Regions from separate parts of the Homo sapiens genome. Here all the other regions are linked to region 1. The links come from fine-mapping of genetic effects on gene expression. A gene starts in region 1. Each other region holds a variant in brackets. All regions are shown on one strand. Distances are from middle to middle. Region 1 holds the start of IKZF1 (IKAROS family zinc finger 1). Region 2 overlaps IKZF1 (IKAROS family zinc finger 1). Region 3 overlaps IKZF1 (IKAROS family zinc finger 1). Region 4 has its middle 83 kb from the start of IKZF1.

Region 1 (5,201 bases):
AATATGTAAATAAAATAAAATGACTTTAGACATAATATGAAAAAAAACAGTTTTACATGTTCCAATTTCTCCCTATATGTTTTCCCATCCATTGTGCATTTTACTGTTGTCCCTAAGGGTTTGAACATTTGATTTATATCACCTCTCTGGTCCCTCTGAGTCTATCCACAGACCCCAGGTTATAATAATATAAGCTTGACTTCCTTCAACTCCACCCGGTTGGGGGCAAGGGTAAGGCATGGTACCTGCAGCCTGACTGCTGTTTTGTTTTGTTTTGTGACAGGGTCTTGCTGTGTCGCCCAAGCTGGAGTGCAGTGGTGTCAATCATGGCTCACTGCAGCCTCAAACTTCTGGGCTCAAGGGATCCTCCTGCCTCAGCCTCCTAAGTAGGTTGTTGGGACTGCAGGTGCATACCATAACACCTAATTTTTAAATTTTTAATACAAATGGGGTTTGATTTTTAAAGTTTAAAATTTTTTTGTACAAACAGGGTCTTGCTTTGTTGCCCAGGCTGGTCTGGAACTCTTGGCTTGAAGTGATCTTCCCACCTTGGGCTCCAAACTCAGGTGTGAGTCACTGCACCCAGCCAAGGAGCCTGACTCTTCACAGTGCACTCCTCATCTCATTGGGACATTGGTTGGGCTAGCAGGGAATAACTGTTCTTACTTGGAAAGTACTCCTCTCTGTCAGGCATGTGGCAAGGTCTTCCATATGTGATCTCCTTAACCCACAAACAACCCCACCAGGAGGGTTATATTATCACCACCAATTTACAGATGGGGAAATTCAGGCTTTGAGAGATTAAGGACCTCAGTCAGATTCATAAGCCCAAACTATCTGGGCTCTTAGCCCCACATGCTCCTGCCTCAGTGGGCTACACCTTGGTGAGATGCCTATGTTTCGGTCCACTGGTCCACTCCTGAAGACCAAGGCACAGGTTTAGAGAGACGTACCAGCGGCTAAAGGTACTTCTGCATCCAAGAACTAGAGGTGTCCCGTGTCCCCTTTACAACATTGTTGGCCTCCCTCTGGGCCTTGTACCTTATGTTTATTGCCTCATTTAATCCAGGTAAGGAGTCTTTAGGATTGGTGGCATGTATTCTTTTTATAGACAAGGAAGATGATGCTCAGGAGTTTGGATAACCTGCCCAAGGTCACGCAGTGGAGGAGAGGACTAGAAGGTAAATCAATGGACCTTTCACTACCTTCCCCTTCTCTGGGCTGTAGCAGTGAGTTAACTGGCTCAGACTTGCCCAGCGGAATGCCCTTCAGGACACACTGAGTACTGTAGTAAGAGCTGCATATGCGCTCAGGGAGAATGTGGATAGACGCTGTTTGTGATTCACGGGTAAAGGGCCTTCTCCCAGAGGCAGCAGAGGCAGATCCTGTCTCTGGTGTGCCCTGGCCCCCGACTTGGAGGCCTCCTGGGCCAGGCCAAGACCTTCCCCGGCAGCGATGGTCTCCAGCCACACTCAACTGCCCTGAAGGGACATTTCCTGCTTATTCCCTTGCCCGGCTGTGTCCTCCACCCGGAAGGCCTGTGCCTTCTTCGCCTGCATGTCCTACCCTGAGGAGGCTCCCTTGGTCTTTCATCGCTCTCCCTATGGGTCTTCACGCCTTCCCGAACCACCGCGCCCAAGCAGGAGCACGTTCTCGGCCCTCTTCACAGGGCGCTCCTCCTCACAGGGGTGCCCGGGATTTTTATTCTGTGCCTTCCTGGTGGCTCCTACAAGTCTGGAAGGGCAGGAGGCGCATCTCACTCCTCTGGGTCCCCTCCCCTAGCGCCTGGCGGGAGCCCAGGCTGCATTTGTGGAATTCATGACTTTTTCTCTCCTGCTCAAGCTGAACACATTGCTGGCTCCTGCTCGGGTGGAGCCCGGCTAATTAGAGTGAGGGGCTCCCCGTAGGGCGAAGGGGTGCGCTGTCAGATGTGGCATTCCCGTTTTACGGAGACACACGGTGTCTTACACGCCAGGGAGAGGTCTGAGACGCAAAGAGCCGTCGAGCGGGCTGCGGGATTGCTTCGCTGTCACCTCCGCCTGCAGCCACCCTTCCGCACGCACTTGTGTGTGCACCCAGGCCAACATGGAAGGCGCCATCCTAACTTCTGCCGTGAGCAGGTGGGAGGGAAGAGAGACGAGAGGTATTCCATTGGTTGTCTGGGAAAATGAATTGCACCTTCCCCTCCCTTGCGGAGGATCAACTTTTCCCACCCCCTCGGGTGGGCACTCGCATCCTGGGGCCGGAGCCTGAACCCGGGAGCCAAGGGGCCCCAGTTCCAGGGACGTGAAGCTGAGCGTACAGCGGGCGCTCCCAGACACTGGGGAAAGTGCTTTACGATGTCCCGAGTCCCTCCAGTCTCGCCAGCGGGGCGAGCGTGAGGGTGCCCCGACCGACCAGCGGCCCCGGGTGCAGGGTGGCGGGCCCGGCGGCGCGCGTCCCCCTCCCCCTCCTGGCGGCCCGCACGTGTCGCCCGCGCCGCGCCCCCACGGGTTACGCGCGGGTCCCGCAGCGCCGCGGCCGAGCCGGGCTGCCCGGCCCGCGGACACAGCGCCGGCCGCCGCATCCCGTGCGGGGCCGCGGCGCGATGCTGCGCTGGAATGAGGAAGCGCGGCGGCGAGGGGAGGGCCCGGGCGCGGTGCGCGCGGGGGTGGCGGCGGCGCGCCGAGCGGGCCCGGCGCGGGCGAGCGGGCTGCAGCCGGCGGCGGCGCCAGCAGGTACGGCCCGCACCCGCCGCCGCCCCGGCGGCCTTTGGGGGCTGAGCCGGAGCCCGGCGCGATTGCAAAGTTTTCGTGCGCGGCCCCTCTGGCCCGGAGTTGCGGCTGAGACGCGCGCCGCGCGAGCCGGGGGACTCGGCGACGGGGCGGGGACGGGACGACGCACCCTCTCCGTGTCCCGCTCTGCGCCCTTCTGCGCGCCCCGCTCCCTGTACCGGAGCAGCGATCCGGGAGGCGGCCGAGAGGTGCGCGCGGGGCCGAGCCGGCTGCGGGGCAGGTCGAGCAGGGACCGCCAGCGTGCGTCACCCCAAAGTTTGCGGGGTGGCAGGGCGCGCGCTCTGGCCACCCGCCGCTCTGGGCGGCAGCTGGTGGCAACGCAAGGGCGCGGCGGGGGCGGCCGGCGCGGAGGGGGCCAGGTACGGGGCCCGCGGGCGGCGCTGTGCGCGCGGGGCAGCCGGTCGGCCGGGAGCGCGAAAGCCTGGTCTGAGCCGGCTGGGGGCGGGGAGTGTGGCGGAGAAATGGGGAACAATGCGAGTGAGCAACTTCAGGAAGTCATTGTGAAAGAAAGCTGGGAAGAGCTCCGCGGCCAAGTTAGCAGGACACTCTAACAAGTGACTGCGCGGCCCGCGCCCGGGGCGGTGACTGCGGCAAGCCCCCTGGGTCCCCGCGCGGCGCATCCCAGCCTGGGCGGGACGCTCGGCCGCGGCGAGGCGGGCAAGCCTGGCAGGGCAGAGGGAGCCCCGGCTCCGAGGTTGCTCTTCGCACCCGAGGATCAGTCTTGGCCCCAAAGCGCGACGCACAAATCCACGTGAGTGTTTTCAAATTGAATTTCAATAGGAAAACTTGGGGTAACTGGTGAATTTAAAAAAAAAAAAACACAGTAAAGAAAAGCGGTAAGGTTGGTAGACCCTGGTGTCGCTCAGGTCCGCCTCTCTTTTCTGAGGACAGTGAGAGAGTTCACTTCTGTCAAGCGTCTGTTGCTCTGCACTGTGCCAGCAGGTGCAGGACCAGGCCGACATGGGACACTTCTGAGCAGCCCCGCTGTCACCAGGAGAGGAGTTCTAGCTCCCAACCATATTTAAATTTATGTAGACCTACATATACCCACGGAAGTCAGCCTTTATAAAGTCGTGTGTAAAGAGTTTTCCTTATATTTGAGCCGGGAGCTTTCTTTTTATACTATAAATATGATGAGATCGAGTCTGAACTTAATTTCTGCAAGAGAGGAATTATCCCGGCTTTGAAAAGTTAGTCCTTTTGCTGACCGCAGGTTTGACGCTCAAGTCACCAAACCTTCTCAGGAAAACCCTTAGTAATATTAAGGCATCAGGTTACTTGCGGTTATATTTGAAATGTATTTTAAATATTTGTCAAGCATCGCTGCTGATGCCTAAGGAACCTCGTGAGGGCTTGTTTTTCCTTCTAATTTGGAGGCATCTAATGACCGAAAACCGTAGCGATTCCATAGGGTCTGACCAGGCACAGCTTTCAAATGCAGCTTCCCTCTCTCTAGGGACTGCAGCCCACCCAGACTGAATTTCAATGCGGTGCGCTTTGCTTAGGTTACCCACTCACAATTTCCCACTGCGCCGCAGGCAGTATATTTCAGCTTTGAGATACCTTGTTTTAAAATTCCAGACAAAATGGTGTTGAGGAAATGTCTCCTTACTAGTCCCATCAACTTCTGTTAAAAGAGGAAAATTTATGGAATTTGAAAATACTGCGTATGATATTTAAACTTTCATAGACATTCAAATGCTTTTAAGGCCAGGTTCAATTTGGTTATGAGTCGAGGGGTGGGGGGGACCCACATAGAAATGTCCTGGGTCCTCTTGAGTTTATTTCTTTGTTTGAAGATGTTTGTTCAATGAGTTTTATTGTACTCATCTTTTATATGGAATTTTAAAAAGTAACAATTTCAGTATTATTTATATTAGAATGTGTCAGAATTATTTCCGTGACAAATCAGATCATTTGGGCTATGGCTTAAAATGTACACGAGGCAAATATTCATGACAAGAAGATTCACCTTCTTACGCTGGCATCTTGTAAAATGCAGAACAAGTTAAAGAAATAATGTGTACACATACAAATAATGATGTCACATTAAAAATACTACACTATTCTTGCTTGATGGAATGTATCTGATTTCCAATTTCACCATGAACATATTTCATACATTTTTTACATGAAAAAAAACGTGACTCTTAAGTCTCACAGTCAATCAGAGCTGGTGACCAGAACATTTTATTGAACTAAATGGTCATGTTTTCTTCCCCTTTTGTTTCACGGTGAGAGTTGAAGGAAGGAGTTTAGAAACTCTCCAGTACTTGTTTAATTCATCAGTGTTCTAATTAGAGTGGTACCTCTTGGAAAACTACACACCCCCCTAATGCAGAAACATCATAGCAATAATCACCCACCCTCAGGGTCTCCAGGAGACCACAAGGGCTGCAGATAAAAGTCTGGATGTGTTAGGTTTGA
Region 2 (5,201 bases), 95 kb after region 1:
TGAATACTTTTAAAATTGATTCCATGTTATGAAGCAATTATGAGGCATTTCCTCTCTTGTTGGAATTAACGATTTTTTCCCCTAGGAGGGACTCTATGGTCTGTGTTTTACTTCCTTTCTTCCCCTGTATTTCTAGAAAATATTTTCCTAGTAACCCTGACATTTCTTTTCATCTTGCTTATTCTAGTTGGTCTGATATAGCTTGATTGACATTTCAGCCTTCTTCCCACTATATTTTTTTTTCCTGTGAGAGCTATTGGGTTTTCTAAATCCTGAAAGAATGCCAAAGATGGGGTTGGAGGAGTTTGGTGAGGCAAAGTGCAGCCTTTGTTAAAATACTTTTCCTTTGCTCTCTCTCCCTCATCTGAAATTTAGTTAAATACCCTAAGCCATCAGCACTGTACCTAGTTGGGGAATGCTTTCATCCCCACAGGAGATTCTCTGGGGCTTTGGGCCATCTTCCCCTTCAGTGTAGACCACAGAGGACTTTGCTTCTGTCCCAGGGAGCCCGCAGGGGCTCACTTCTCCATGTTCATCTGATTCTTGTCAGCCAAGGTTTCAAATGCTTTTCTGATCAGAACAGGGAAAAGATACCTATCTGAATCATGTCTTTATAGATATGAGGCTATGAGGGAAAATTCTGAGGTTATTCTTGACTCACACCTAAAGATTTGGAAATGAGATTAGCAGCAAAGCTTTGCCCTACATCTCATGTCAGAATTTTCTGTTTCTTTCTAGTCTTTGAGTGTATGTGTGTTCTCACACACGCCATAATGAAATGCATATTATATATAATTATGTGTATATATAATATTCTATGACTATACATGACATGTTCCTTTAGCTGATTGCTGTTAAGAGAAATTTATAGGTTTTTATTTTTCTTGTTTTGTTGGGTATTAAGGAAGAGAAATTCTATGGTAATTTTCATGTGGCACAGTAATCTGGCATATATGTTGATTTTTTTCCTACACCCATTTGTTGTGATACCAAGTTTGAAAACAACAGATTTCAGTGGTTGCTTGGGAAACCACAGAACCATGACTTGGGGAGAGACAGGATGATTAGGTGGGAAAGCACCCTTTTGGTGGGGCTGTAAAGACTTTTATATTTAGCAAAATTGGCTACAAAGTCCATTCCCCTCCTTTTCTTGCCTTGATTTGGTAGAGGGATAGACTTGGATACAAACTAGAATGGATTCATTCTTCTCTGGAGTTAGTGTAACAAGACATTTAGCTGCTCAACACAAAAACAGAAACAAAAAAATTGTGTGGTTTCAGCAGTGCTATACAATTACTTTTTCTGACCTTTAATGGAGAGAAACACCACTTCTTTGGTCCCTACCATCAGCTTCATAGGGTTTTCATCCTGTTCTGTTTCTGGGAGGGCGTAACTGGCCATGCACAAGTTTTTTTTCTCTAATCAGAGTATGTGCCACTTCTGACCACCAGTAGATGAAAACGAATGGAAACCAGGCTATTATATGATACATATCCATTACAAAATAAGACATGAAACTCAAAGGTACTTTATGGTATAATGGGGCATATATTCCTGGACAATTCTTAATGGTCACAGATTTTATAAAAGGACTATTAGTAAATGTATGAATTACAGAGTAATTTATCCTTCTGTTAGTAAGAACCAGCTGATGACCTCAGTGTCAGGTGCATCGTGGAAGGTGTTGGGACCTTCCCTTGCCACCACCCTCACCAGCCATCATCAGCCATAACCTGCACATTGGGGAAGTTTTGACTTATCCCTCACTTTTGCCCCTCTTCAAGCTGTTCTTTCCACAGTGAATGAGAAGGCCACTTCTTCCTTCAAACCTTTCAGTGGTTTCCATTTTCCTTTAGACAAAGTCTCTGCCTAGCTGGCCTCTGCCTGCCCCTCCTGCCTACCTCTCGAGCACTGCCCCCACCTAGGGCTCTGGTTCCCCAACCTTCACTCGGTCCTGCCACACCTCCCAGCCCCTTCTCCCTTCAGAACTTTCCTTCTTGTTGTCCCCAACACTGGGACACAAAACCCTCCTTATCAACCCTCCTTATCTGGCTGACTCTTACAAGATCAGAAACCTGTGTAATGCTCTCATGGCACGCTCCCCTTGTCTTCGTGGATTTCTCAGATGGGAAGGAATTATCCATGCAATCAC[A/G]CATAAACTTCTACCTACCCTCCCCTAGTAGCTGTCTGCTGCTAAGGATGGGGACCATTCTCACTTACTCACTGTTCTGTCCCTCTGCCCAGTCCAGATGTGTTGAAGGATGGAAATATACAGAGTAGTGGTAAAATATAAACCGTTCAGACATTCCAAGGATGGGCTCATGTGCTTTGACTCATTAATGTACCACTGCTGAAAACAGAACACAGCCGCAGTCTTGCCAGTAAGAGTGCAGTTACTGTAATTAATGAATTTGCTAATTAAGCCATGATTTCATACTGAACTTATGACCAACATATTGAGAAGGTGTGTCTTCAAGAAAATTTATTTTTTGTATTAAGATATTTACTCCAAAGCTAATTGAAGAAGCCAAATCTAGGCTCTGGTTTCACCATTGCCAGGGAAATGAGCTCATGGACTCCTATGAACTGATGATGTTAGATCAGAAGTTTCTCAAGGCCAGGGCCCAATCACTGCTGAGGCGTCAACAGTAGTTCCTTGTACATCAATAATTCTCATTACTTTTAAAAAATAACAGATGAATAGCAACTATTTTCCCTGTAGCTCCCTTGCTGTGCCTCCTACCCTCCACCACATGTTTCTGGGGAGCCCTGCTTCGGGCCTGCCAACTACAGAGAATTACTTTTGAGTATCCCTTCCACTCTCATCTCAAGACAGAGTTCATCTACCTTTGGGTTATTTGTCAAAAATGTGTCATTTTATTACAAAAAATATACAATCATCATGTATTTTGATTAAATTTTACACTAGATTATTAAAATTATTAAATACAATTATTAAAATTAATAATTTAACATATCACATATTTTAAATATATTGTATATAATGAATAATAATATAATTATTGTCTATTTTAATTCAATAAATGTATAGTAAGTTAGCCAGTTGTAAATTACTGAGAACACTCTACTGAAAAAGCATCATTTCAAATACACTATTTAAAATATTAAATGAAATACAATAACATAATTAAACTAATCTTTGGTTCCCCTATTTATGTATTCATTTATCCAACAAAATCTCCTTAAGTGCTTATAATGGGTAGGTCCTGGCTCGGTGTCCCCTAGACAGACGCATGGGCCTTCCCCCAGCCCGTCAGTATGGTGCAGGTGTGATGTGTCCGCAGGTGTGTGTGTATGTGTGCAGGTGTGGGGTCCGCAGGCGTGCTGGGCCCCCAGGCCGTGTTCCCCTTCCCCTCCCCGGTTGTAGATTTCAGCTGTTGCTGCCAGACCTGACCGGTTCCGGAGGTGGCCGCGCCCCACTCACTGTCGCCTGCTTTCCACAGGGGACAAGGGCCTGTCCGACACGCCCTACGACAGCAGCGCCAGCTACGAGAAGGAGAACGAAATGATGAAGTCCCACGTGATGGACCAAGCCATCAACAACGCCATCAACTACCTGGGGGCCGAGTCCCTGCGCCCGCTGGTGCAGACGCCCCCGGGCGGTTCCGAGGTGGTCCCGGTCATCAGCCCGATGTACCAGCTGCACAAGCCGCTCGCGGAGGGCACCCCGCGCTCCAACCACTCGGCCCAGGACAGCGCCGTGGAGAACCTGCTGCTGCTCTCCAAGGCCAAGTTGGTGCCCTCGGAGCGCGAGGCGTCCCCGAGCAACAGCTGCCAAGACTCCACGGACACCGAGAGCAACAACGAGGAGCAGCGCAGCGGTCTCATCTACCTGACCAACCACATCGCCCCGCACGCGCGCAACGGGCTGTCGCTCAAGGAGGAGCACCGCGCCTACGACCTGCTGCGCGCCGCCTCCGAGAACTCGCAGGACGCGCTCCGCGTGGTCAGCACCAGCGGGGAGCAGATGAAGGTGTACAAGTGCGAACACTGCCGGGTGCTCTTCCTGGATCACGTCATGTACACCATCCACATGGGCTGCCACGGCTTCCGTGATCCTTTTGAGTGCAACATGTGCGGCTACCACAGCCAGGACCGGTACGAGTTCTCGTCGCACATAACGCGAGGGGAGCACCGCTTCCACATGAGCTAAAGCCCTCCCGCGCCCCCACCCCAGACCCCGAGCCACCCCAGGAAAAGCACAAGGACTGCCGCCTTCTCGCTCCCGCCAGCAGCATAGACTGGACTGGACCAGACAATGTTGTGTTTGGATTTGTAACTGTTTTTTGTTTTTTGTTTGAGTTGGTTGATTGGGGTTTGATTTGCTTTTGAAAAGATTTTTATTTTTAGAGGCAGGGCTGCATTGGGAGCATCCAGAACTGCTACCTTCCTAGATGTTTCCCCAGACCGCTGGCTGAGATTCCCTCACCTGTCGCTTCCTAGAATCCCCTTCTCCAAACGATTAGTCTAAATTTTCAGAGAGAAATAGATAAAACACGCCACAGCCTGGGAAGGAGCGTGCTCTACCCTGTGCTAAGCACGGGGTTCGCGCACCAGGTGTCTTTTTCCAGTCCCCAGAAGCAGAGAGCACAGCCCCTGCTGTGTGGGTCTGCAGGTGAGCAGACAGGACAGGTGTGCCGCCACCCAAGTGCCAAGACACAGCAGGGCCAACAACCTGTGCCCAGGCCAGCTTCGAGCTACATGCATCTAGGGCGGAGAGGCTGCACTTGTGAGAGAAAATACTATTTCAAGTCATATTCTGCGTAGGAAAATGAATTGGTTGGGGAAAGTCGTGTCTGTCAGACTGCCCTGGGTGGAGGGAGACGCCGGGCTAGAGCCTTTGGGATCGTCCTGGATTCACTGGCTTTGCGGAGGCTGCTCAGATGGCCTGAGCCTCCCGAGGCTTGCTGCCCCGTAGGAGGAGACTGTCTTCCCGTGGGCATATCTGGGGAGCCCTGTTCCCCGCTTTTTCACTCCCATACCTTTAATGGCCCCCAAAATCTGTCACTACAATTTAAACACCAGTCCCGAAATTTGGATCTTCTTTCTTTTTGAATCTCTCAAACGGCAACATTCCTCAGAAACCAAAGCTTTATTTCAAATCTCTTCCTTCCCTGGCTGGTTCCATCTAGTACCAGAGGCCTCTTTTCCTGAAGAAATCCAATCCTAGCCCTCATTTT
Region 3 (5,000 bases), 27 kb after region 1:
AAAAGAATATGAAGGACATACAGGTAAAATGAGGTAGACTGGATCAATGTGGGTCAGCTACATAAGCCCCCATAGCCAAGGAGGGAACATGTATGTAAAATTCTCAGGCTTATGAGAATCACAACTGTATGTCTATAGGACATCCTAATGCAATAATGGGAAAATGTGATAACTGAATTTTATCTACATGTATAGAAAACATATTTTGGGCCGGGCATGGTGGCTCAAGCTTGTAATCCCAGCACTTTGGGAGGCCGAGGCTGGCGGATCACAAGGTCAGGAAATCGAGACCATCCTGGCTAACACGGTGAAACCCTGTCTCTACTAAAAATACAAAAAATTAGCCGGGCGTAGTGGTGGGCGCCTGTAGTCCCAGCTACTCGGGAGGCTGAGGCAGGAGAATGGCGTGAACCCGGCAGGCGGAGCTTGCAGTGAGCCGAGATTGCGCCACTGCACTCCAGCCTGGATGACAGAGCCAGACTCCATCTCAAAAAAAAAAAAAAAAAAGAAAAAGTAAAGAAAACATATTTTGTATGTTTTTTATGTGTCTTAGAAACCAAGTGGACTAGGTATAATGGTTCTTTTTTTTTTTAACTCAGCAGCACAGTTAATGGCACAAACAGATAAAGATGGTGGCTAAAGCCATTTGGTGTAGATGAATCCAGAAAACAAGTACATTTATGAATTATTTTACCCTATTGGAAAATGGCTACTATATGTGGAAAGTAGAGGGGAAGAGAAATGAACTTGTGAATTATCTACTCTATTCTACCAAAGAAAGATACATATATCATTTCAGGGTTTTCCAAAGTTGGGATGCAAAGGATCATGTTTCATTTTAATTTATGTATTTATTTTTGAGATTGTCTTCTATGTATTGCAAGTGATACTGGTTTTACCATGCACTGTACCACTACGAGGGTTCCTTTCAAAACACATTCATATAAATTAAAAAATCAGTTTAAATAAAAACATCAAGTCAATAGTAGTACATAGATATGATAAAAGTTTGCAAAAGTGGCACAGGAATAGTCATTGGGTGGTGATGTTCCCTGATTTTTTTAGTCCCTGAAGCACCCAGCGCCAAGGGTACTGTTCTTCCTGCTTAACACAGGAGCAAACAGATGCTCACACCCTGCCCAAGAACACAGAGGCTCAGGGACTGAACCAGAAGAAATGATCCATTAACCATGTAAATGAACAGAGAGCCTGGATGTCAGAGTGAGGAGGCCAGCTCGGGTCGCTGTGGAGAAAGAGATGGGCTCTCCCTGGAATCCCTGCAGCTGCCCTTAGAGGCTGTGAGCCATCGTGGCTAGGGCATCTTTAGAGAACTGAAAGTCAGGCCGATTCCTGGAGAGTGAAGAATAGCACACGTGCCTTCAAAACAGTGTCAGTATCCTGTCCCTTACGGACGTCATATTGTTGGTGGGTTTTCCTGGGTGGGAGATCACCCAGTATCTGGTTGGCATTACTGATGGGTTCCCAGAGCTGTCTTTTGGTTCAAAGTCCTGCCCTCGGTCCCAGCTGCCCCCAGCACAGGTGTCACCTTGGAGTCAGGGGCGGGTTTGTCATAGCCCATGGGTCCTGGCCCTGCCCTTTATCATGTTTGACATGATTTTCAGTCTACTTTTCCTTCAGGATGTAATTTAGAAAATATGATTTCAGAATTGTGAAATTTAAAAACCCTAGAAAACCTCTTTGCTTTGCTTGTAAATAGCAGTTGATGCAGCCCTGTGGACAGGCGGGAACAGCCATGTGACGTGGGCACTGAGATGATTTGGGAGATTGAATGCTCCTCAGTGGGGCTAGAGGCCACAGGAGTGATAGGTTACTGTAAAGAAAGCAAAAAAGATGCAAAAGCCTACATGACAAACCAGGCACGACACAAAGGAGAGGCTTGAGAAGAGGAAGTGAAGGAGGGAGAGGATTCCACAAGACCGAAGTGCCCAAGGAGACATGGAGGGAAGAGAGGGCTCTTCACAGAGCTGAGTTTAGAGACCACCCTCCATGGTTCTGGAAGGAAACCAGCCAGCTTTCATATGTGGTGACAGGCTGTTCATTAATTTGTAGTGTA[C/T]AGCATTAAATAAATGAAGTATGTAGAGAACATTAGGAAACAATATAAAAAGGTAGGGGAATTCGTGGATAAAGGGAATAACCTGGGTACCATATTTCATCACATTATTCCATGGGAATAAGTCATCAGTGCAAAGGACTGTAAGGAGTGCACAGCAGGAAATGAAAAGACAGAAGCAGTGGGGCCGAGAGGAGGAAATGGAGTTGCTGAAATGCAGGGTGAGCAGCAGGGGCGGAGAGTGCCCTGTGGGTAAGGCACACCTCAGAAGGGACAGGTCCAGGCCCTCTCCTCCCTGGCCTGGAGCTTCTGGCAAGGCTTTTCTTCTCTGAGCCTCACTTTCCTCTTTTGAAGGTGGCAATAGTAACTGAACCTGCATCACAGAATGGCCTTGAGGGTTAGATGGAACATATATAGACATAATTTGTTGAAGACAGAGTAGCAAAGACACAAAGTAAAAAGGACAGAAAAAAGAAATGCAACTTGTGCAAAATAGAACTTTCAAAGATTTACAAGAAGGGTAAATGAAGCTATCGTAGCTTCACTTGGGAAAAGGGAGAGAACAGATGACCAGCACCAAGGATAGAAGAGGGATTTCTTACTTTAAAAAAAATGGTCCAAAGAATAAACAAACTGAAAACAGCCAAAAGAGAAAGGAAGAATTTGTTAGAATAGGGCAAGACTAAAGGACAGAGTAAGGGTGCTGGCCGCCACCTGACTCAAGTTCAAGTCGAGCTGCCACTGTTGAAATTTCAAGGAGAAATGGTGAGAAGCTAAAAGATGCAAAAAAAAAAAAAAAGTGGGAAATTATTTGCTAATAATAGATTGCAAGAGTGTCTGCTTTAGAAAGTGACAAGGAACACTTTTGGAAAGCTGTGAGCTGTTATGACCACTGGCATCCTTCAGTTTTAGACAAATCTAATCTCAACAAGGATAACAGACCATATTAATAAACAAATTGATGGGAATGGTGGAAATCAGTTCCCTATGAGGAGGGTGCAAAGTTATACTGATTGGTGAGTCACTCCCAGAATAAACAAATAATGGTTTCACACCTCATTGCTTCATTCAGTGTGGAAGGAACATTCTAGGTTTGTGTGTAAGTTTGGGGAGAAGGAGACAGAGCCAGAGGGCAGAGCAGCCCTGCAGCCCTCAGTTGGCCTCCATTTTCTTCCCGGTCTGAAGAAAATGAAACAAAGGATTTAAAGTGTTGCTTGAAGAATTTAAGTTAGACTTAAAGGAGAGATGTGGTCTTTACTCTCCTTTTGGCAAGGAGAGTTTAGTCATCAGAATGGTCTATTTAGTGAGACTGTAGCTTGTTCTTCTGAAGTGGTCTTTTTAAAAACTAGAGAACTCTCACCTCTCTGAAGTGGTTGTGTATGAAACTGTTTAAAGCCGAGGATGCACTCAGTGACCTCTTCAGGCAACCCCAGATTTACTCAGTCAGCCATGGCACACATGCTAGAGAAGTAAAAAAATGAATTGAGACTTGTTCTGAAAACTCTTGAGCAGGGGCTCTTAAAAGTTTTTTGTTTAGGAATTATGTCAGGGTTGGGGTCTGGAGAGCAGATAAGTGTTTTGTGTGAGAAAAGTAAAAACTTAGTTATTTTCTTCCCGTATTCAGTAATCCTTGCATTTTTTTCCTCCTCCTTTATACATACATTTTTGCCAGTTACTGACTTCTCTCTTGTACACATTTCCGTGTCCTAAATTAACCAAGAGTCCTCAGCCACTAGGATTCTATTGACAAGCCCACAGGTCTGGAGGTGTGAGTAAGGGCATTCCTCCCCCATGAAATCAGGCAGCAGGGGAGGCGTTTGGGTGGGTGGAACAGAGGAGCAAAAGACCAGAGGACAGAGAAGAAAGATTGCAGGCTAGAAAACGGGATGGCCACCCCTGAGAAAGAGGACAAGCAAATTTAGGGCTTAGAGTAGAATTGAAGAAAAAACCCAGGGCAGAGGCACAGGAATGCTGTAGGACTGAACTGGGACCATGATTGATGTAAGTGGAGATGGGTTGGTTGAATCCGTGGAAGGCCAAAGGATTGAGGCCCATATGGGCCTGGGACAGGGCTTACTAAATGACTTGCTACCTGGCTTGATAATCGGGACAACCTCAGGCAGTAGTTATTCAGGCGGGAGGACACATGAGTTTGAATATAGGGAGATAAGGTATATTTCTATATGCCCTGGTACATTCCAGAATGTGCTTCTCTGGCTCTGTGCACTGGAGCAGCCAACTCCTGAAGTTGGGAGGGGATCGCCATGGTTTCATGAGTGGTTTATTTCAGCTTGCATCTCACAGTGTGGTGTTCAGAGGCATAGGCTCTAGGCTCCCTGGCAGCACTGAGAGATAGAAACTGAATCAGCACAACTTAGGTCCTTCATGTTGAATAGTTTGAACAGAATTTGATTTACCCTAGCCTAATTGAAAAAAAAAAAAGTAGAAAAGAAATCTAGGTATTTTCCCTCTGGACTCCAGAACAAATGATTGAGTGTGTAAAAGCATAAATCTTTTTTATTCATTCAATTGAAGTAAAAATTTCTTTACTCAGCCATGAGTTCTAAGACTGCAGTGGGAATTGTAAGAGGATTACCATATTTTAAATTGGCTATTCTGGTGCCAAATCTCCCCTTCATTTTACAGTTTCAGGCAGAAGACCAGCACGGTAGTCGGGGGAGGGGGGTGGGTAGACAAATGGTGGTAACAGTCCTCTACACTCTGGGAGGGAAGGAGCGGTGCTGGGGACAGCTTTCACCATGGAAAGAAAGCAGCCGCTCTGGAGATTGGGCAGCAGGCTTTTGAGCACGGATGCGGAGCCTGCTTATCTAATCAGCAGCTAGAGGAAGTTGTTTTTATCTGCGAAATGCATCTCTTCTGAACCGATAAACCCCATTTTAGCTGGGGAGAAATATTATCTAGCAGCATC
Region 4 (5,201 bases), 82 kb before region 1:
TCCTTCCAGGATCCTCCAGATAGAGAAGCCAGACGTTGGGTGGAGGAGGGACTCAGATGGGGCTTGAAGGGAAGGGCCTTGTGAGGGCTGTAGGTGGCACACACTGGCAGAGGCACTGAACATACGTGACCTCCATCCTCACAAGAACCTGGCAACCAAGTGGCAACCCCATGCTCAGAAACAAAACTGAGGCTCAGAGAAGTTGAAGAATTTGTCTAAGGTCATGAAGCTGATAATGGAGGAAAATGGGATTCCAACTCAGGAGAGTTAAGCTCCAAGCCCTTGATTTTACCACTTGGGCCTTGTTACTCAAGGTCCAGGAACAAGTGGCACCTGTGCCACCTGGAAACTTGGTAGAAATCAGATCCTCGTGCCCCACTTCAGATGTACAGAATCAGAATGTGCATTTTCTCAAGAGTCCCAGGTTTAAGCATGTGTTCTGCCTTCCTGGGGAGGGTCCTTGAGCACTTTGGGGTCACAATTCAGCACCAAGTGGTGGTACATTCCCAGGTCAGGAAGAGGCTGTGTGTCTCTGGAGTAGAAACCCTAAGAGGCATAATAAGCAATAGTGCTTAGGAATAAGTGCTCAATTGTGATAATCAAACAGATAAGGAAAATAATGAGAAGGTGAGATTTCATGAAAGACAAAAAGACTAGTAGATGTTACACCTCTGGTTGTTTCTGAGTTTGTGAGCTCTTCGTCCATCTCTCCATCCACTCATTCATCAGAATGACTAAGGATCTAAAATGTTGGAAGGACACAGGCTGTCTCATTTTGCCTGTTTGGCCCACAGAGAGAAGTTAAAAGAGTTTGTTCTTACACCTAAGATGAGCTTCTAAGTTCAGTTACCAGAATTTTCAAGCAATGCAGAAAGTGGCATTCTGTGGTGGTCTTTAGAAAAGCAGTATCTCCTAAATCAAAGCAAGAGAGAATAAGACCACACATAAATCAAATGAAGAAAGAGTAGTGCCATCAATGATAGAGACAGACCTGAGGAGAGGGTGGTGGTAGAAAGAATCTGAATTAGAAAAGGGAGGAGAAGAAAGCCATGAGTGATGCTTGTCAAATTTGGGACTGGGCCCACACTGGCATTAAAGAGACCTGAATAGTACCTAGAAGTGTTCTGGGAGTTTTCACCATCCTGTGCTCCAATCATATCCTAATAGTTACTGATTTGGAAGTGGTACCCTGGGTCACATATGTCAATATCAATAGAAAGAAATGATTCTTATGGTAAATTCACAAAAGGATTATTTTTGGATTATAATTTGGCATCATGTGAGTTTGACTACCATGGGCTTGTTTCTGAGAATGTGATCACTTCAAGATGCCCTTACAAAATTGATCCTCTCTATTCTGAAAAATTGTAAGCCCTTGACCTGGCTTACTCACCTAACTACCGAGTGGCCCAATCAGCAGGTCTCCTTTCCTGGCATGGCACTGTAACCTCCTCACCCTGGATCTCTCCCACTACTTTCTTACAATTCAGTTAAGGGATCACCCATACCCACATGCTCACTGCCTCTCCCACAGTTAGTTCCTGAATCTGTTTTGACTGAGGTTGCAATTACTTAAACTTTTGCAACCATCCCCTTCTCTCTATTCAACAGGCAGAACCTAATATCATCACTCTTATTACGTGGCTAACCAGGGAGCTCCTGTTCTGTGCCTCAATTACCAACTCTCCCTGTCCTGTGCATGCCCTAGTCTATGGAAAGGACTTTAAGTGCCCTTTTCTGTCTCCATTTAGTCCTCCAAATGCCTTGCTTTCAATATTGAAGTCCAGCTTCTGAACACCCTACCAGGTGGCAAGGCTCCAAGAACCATTTTTTTAAGTGGTTCCATACTGCTTGGCATCATTTAGCCAATATGCTCAGGGTCTACACTCCATCTACCACTGGGATCCCATCACCACCTGCCTACCCCACTTCCACTCCCACAGCTGACAACTTTCCCTGAACAAGATTGAGATTGTTGTGCTCTTGGACACTTGTGCCCAGCCTCCCCTGCCCTGACAGCATCCTTGCCCTGTGGGTTCCTCCAGCCTCCATTTTCTTACCCCAGTGGGGAGACTAAGCACCACCTATGACTATCTCTTTACTTCATTACGTGGCTGGAGATGGAGTTTCTTCTGTAAATGGCATCTGACCTATCTCAAGATAGAGGAGCCCAAAGGAGTGATCCGAGTGAGTGAAGTGAATTAGTGACAACTTCATGCAAAAAAGTTTGAGACACGTCATGGAGATGAATTAGGGAAGAGGTAGAGGAGGACCTCCAAATAGAGGAAATGAGGTAACACTTGCAGG[G/A]ACTGGGCAACCACCAGCTCAACAAGGGAGGGGACAGAGGTCAGCCTGTGGCAAGGAGCTCCCAGCCCCTCCCTCTCTGGGAAGAAGCAGTGGAAGCACCTTTCCTCCAGTTCTGCTCTGGACTCCCAGCAACAAACCGTCATGATCTGGGAACTTTGCACAGCCAAGGATGAAATGTCAGCCCTCAAACCTATGTCAGAGCTGCTGTGAAAATTGGAAATAAGAAACTTATGATAGGAAATTCATTTGCATGTACTATTTTACTTTTAACCCAGAATGATAGCTTTAGGCTTAAGCCATCCTATATCATCTGTATGAATTATTTCTTAATTTTCACTGAATGTTCAAAAGTAGAGTCATGTTTAATCATATAAGCACAGAGATGCATATACACACATATTCATACCTGCATGGGGCAGGGGAGTGTGTGTGTGTGTGTGTGTGCATAAACACAAGTTGCTGGGAGGAGATGAAATGAATAATGCCATACACTCACAACTTAAAAAAAATTGGGAGTAGTAGTATTTTGTTTCTCAGTTATTAATTCCAGTTAATGTAGTGATTAGAAAAGGAATCCACAAACATTTACTGGAATCTAAGTTCAGCCAAGCATAATGAGACTGGCTCATGTTATTTTTAATAGGCTTTTCATAGCTCATCCCTTAAATATAGAGAAACAAAGAGGTAAGAGAAATCAAGTCTATTCAAAGGCACATTCCATCCATGATACCAAGATTACAGCAGTTCTCTCATGGCTATAAAGCTTTGTTCCTGTCTCTTTAGCCAATTCAATAAGTAAGCTCACAAATGGGATAAAATAGATTAAGGAAGCCCTAAATGTAAGTGTCAAAGATAAACAGAAAACATAGTATACTCTTTCTTGCTCTTTTTGCACTGTTGTGTGACTTGAAACATTTTCCCTAGTTAGTTAGGAGACTTGGAATACTTCCAATCTGCCCCTACTCCTTGCCGCTTATAAATTCTTAACTTCCTATTGATACCAAAGATATCACAAGAAAACAAATCAATATATCATATTAATATAGATATAAAAACCTTCAACAAAATACTAGCAAGCCAAATCCAGTAACATATAACACAAACTGTATACCATGTGTATGCATACCAAGTGGAACTTATTCCAGGAATTCAAGGTTGGTTTAATATCTGAAAATTAATTAATGTAAAATAACATATCAACAGAATAAATGATAAAACCATATGATCCTCTAAATTAATGCAGAAAAGACATTTGACAAAAATCTAACCCCCTTCATGATAAAAACACTCAAAAAGCTATGAAAAAAATGGAAATTTCCTGAGCCTAATAAAAGACATCTATGAAACATCCACAGCTAATTTAATAGAAAATGACTTATTGTTTTCCCCTAAGATCAGGAATAAGACAAAGATATTCATTCTCACTGCTTCTATTCCACATTGTACTGGAAGTTCCAGCCAGAGAAATTAGTCAGGCAAAGGAAATAAAAGGCTTTTCGACTGGAAAAGAAGAAGTAGAACTATATTTATTTCCAGATGACATGATCTTATATATAGAATATGCTACAGAGCACACTAAAAAAATAGAATTAATAAATGTGTTCAGCAAGGTTGTAGGATATGACACCAATATGCAAAAATCAGTTGCAAATCTATACATGAGCAATAAACAATTTGAACGTTGTTTTAAAAATTTCATTTACAATACCATTCAAAAGAATAAAATACATAGAAATAAAGTTAACAAAGAAGAACCAATATTTCCATGCTGAAAAATCACAAAACCTTAATTTAAAAAAAGAGACATCAATAAATAGGAAGACATACTATGTTCATGGATTGAGAGATTTAATACCATTAAAATGAAAATACTCCCCAAGATGATCTATAGACTCAATCCCTATCAAAATTTCATCAATCTTTTTTGTAGAAAATGAACAGTCAATCCTGAAACCCACATGAAATTACAAGGGACCTTGAATAGCCAACCAACCTGAAGAGAAAGAACAGAGTTGAAATGCTCACACTTTTCATTTTCTTTTTTTGTTGTTGTTCTTTTTTTTCTTTTTTTTTTTTTAGACAGAGTTTCACTCTTGTTGCCCAGGCTGGAGTGCAATGGTGCAATCTCAGCTCACTGCAACCTCTGCCTCCCAGGTTCAAGCTATTCTCCTGCCTCAGCTTCCCAAGTAGCTGGGATTACAGGTGCCTGCCACCACACCCAGCTAATTTTTTGTATTTTTTAGTAGAGATGGGGTTTCACTATGATGGCCAGGCTGGTCTCGAACTCTTGACCTCAGGTAATCCACCCACCTCAGCCTCCCCAAGTGCTGGGATTACAGGCCTGAGCCACCGTGCCCAGCCCAAATTTTCATTTTCAAAGCTGTGATACCGGCATGCGATACTGGCATAAGGATAGTCAAATAAATCAATGAACTAGAACTGAGATCCCAGAAATAAAACCATTCATAGTCAATTGGTTGTACAATGCAGTGCCAACATTATTCATTTGGTAAAGAAGAGTCTCTTCAATAAATGGTGCTGGGACAACTGGATATTCATACATAAAAGAATAAAATTGGACACTTACCTCATAAAATATACAAATATTAACTCAAAATGGATCAACAACCTAAATGTAAGAATTAAAACAATAAAACTCTTAGAAGAAAACATGTGAGTGGCTCTTCAGGGCCTTGGATTTGGCAAAGGTTTCTTAGACATGACACCAAAAGCACAGGTGACATAAATAAATCGATACATTGGAGTTAGTCAAAATAAAAAACTTTGTCCATCAAAAGACATAATCAAGAGAGTGAGAAAACAACTCAGAGAATGGAAGAAGATATTTCCAAATCATACACCTGACATGGGTCTAACACCCAGAATATATAAAA

Evidence for each region. PIP is the estimated chance that this variant, and not a neighbour inherited with it, causes the effect. A credible set is the group of variants that fine-mapping cannot tell apart.
Region 2: its variant is the best candidate, but not a certain one, in a credible set for the expression of IKZF1 in whole blood (INTERVAL, PIP 0.82).
Region 3: its variant is the best candidate, but not a certain one, in a credible set for the expression of IKZF1 in whole blood (Lepik 2017, PIP 0.61).
Region 4: its variant is the best candidate, but not a certain one, in a credible set for the expression of IKZF1 in whole blood (TOPMed, PIP 0.51).

The regions. Positions count from the first base shown.
Region 1 is chr7:50,301,398-50,306,598 of GRCh38, forward strand. It overlaps IKZF1 (IKAROS family zinc finger 1), which reads left to right and starts at 3,319. Exons shown (of 8, transcript NM_006060.6): 1 at 3,319-3,525. RefSeq lists an enhancer at 1,276-1,777 and a silencer at 2,632-3,431.
Region 2 is chr7:50,396,454-50,401,654 of GRCh38, forward strand. It overlaps IKZF1 (IKAROS family zinc finger 1), which reads left to right. Exons shown (of 8, transcript NM_006060.6): 8 at 3,465-5,201. The coding sequence ends at 4,174. Among named protein-coding and RNA genes, the nearest start is that of FIGNL1, 51 kb to the right of the region's middle. The variant A/G (reference allele first, on the strand shown) is at 2,153.
Region 3 is chr7:50,328,584-50,333,583 of GRCh38, forward strand. The region is part of intron 3 of IKZF1 (IKAROS family zinc finger 1); the gene reads left to right. Among named protein-coding and RNA genes, the nearest start is that of IKZF1, 26 kb to the left of the region's middle. The variant C/T (reference allele first, on the strand shown) is at 2,075.
Region 4 is chr7:50,218,911-50,224,111 of GRCh38, forward strand. No RefSeq gene overlaps it. Among named protein-coding and RNA genes, the nearest start is that of IKZF1, 83 kb to the right of the region's middle. The variant G/A (reference allele first, on the strand shown) is at 2,308.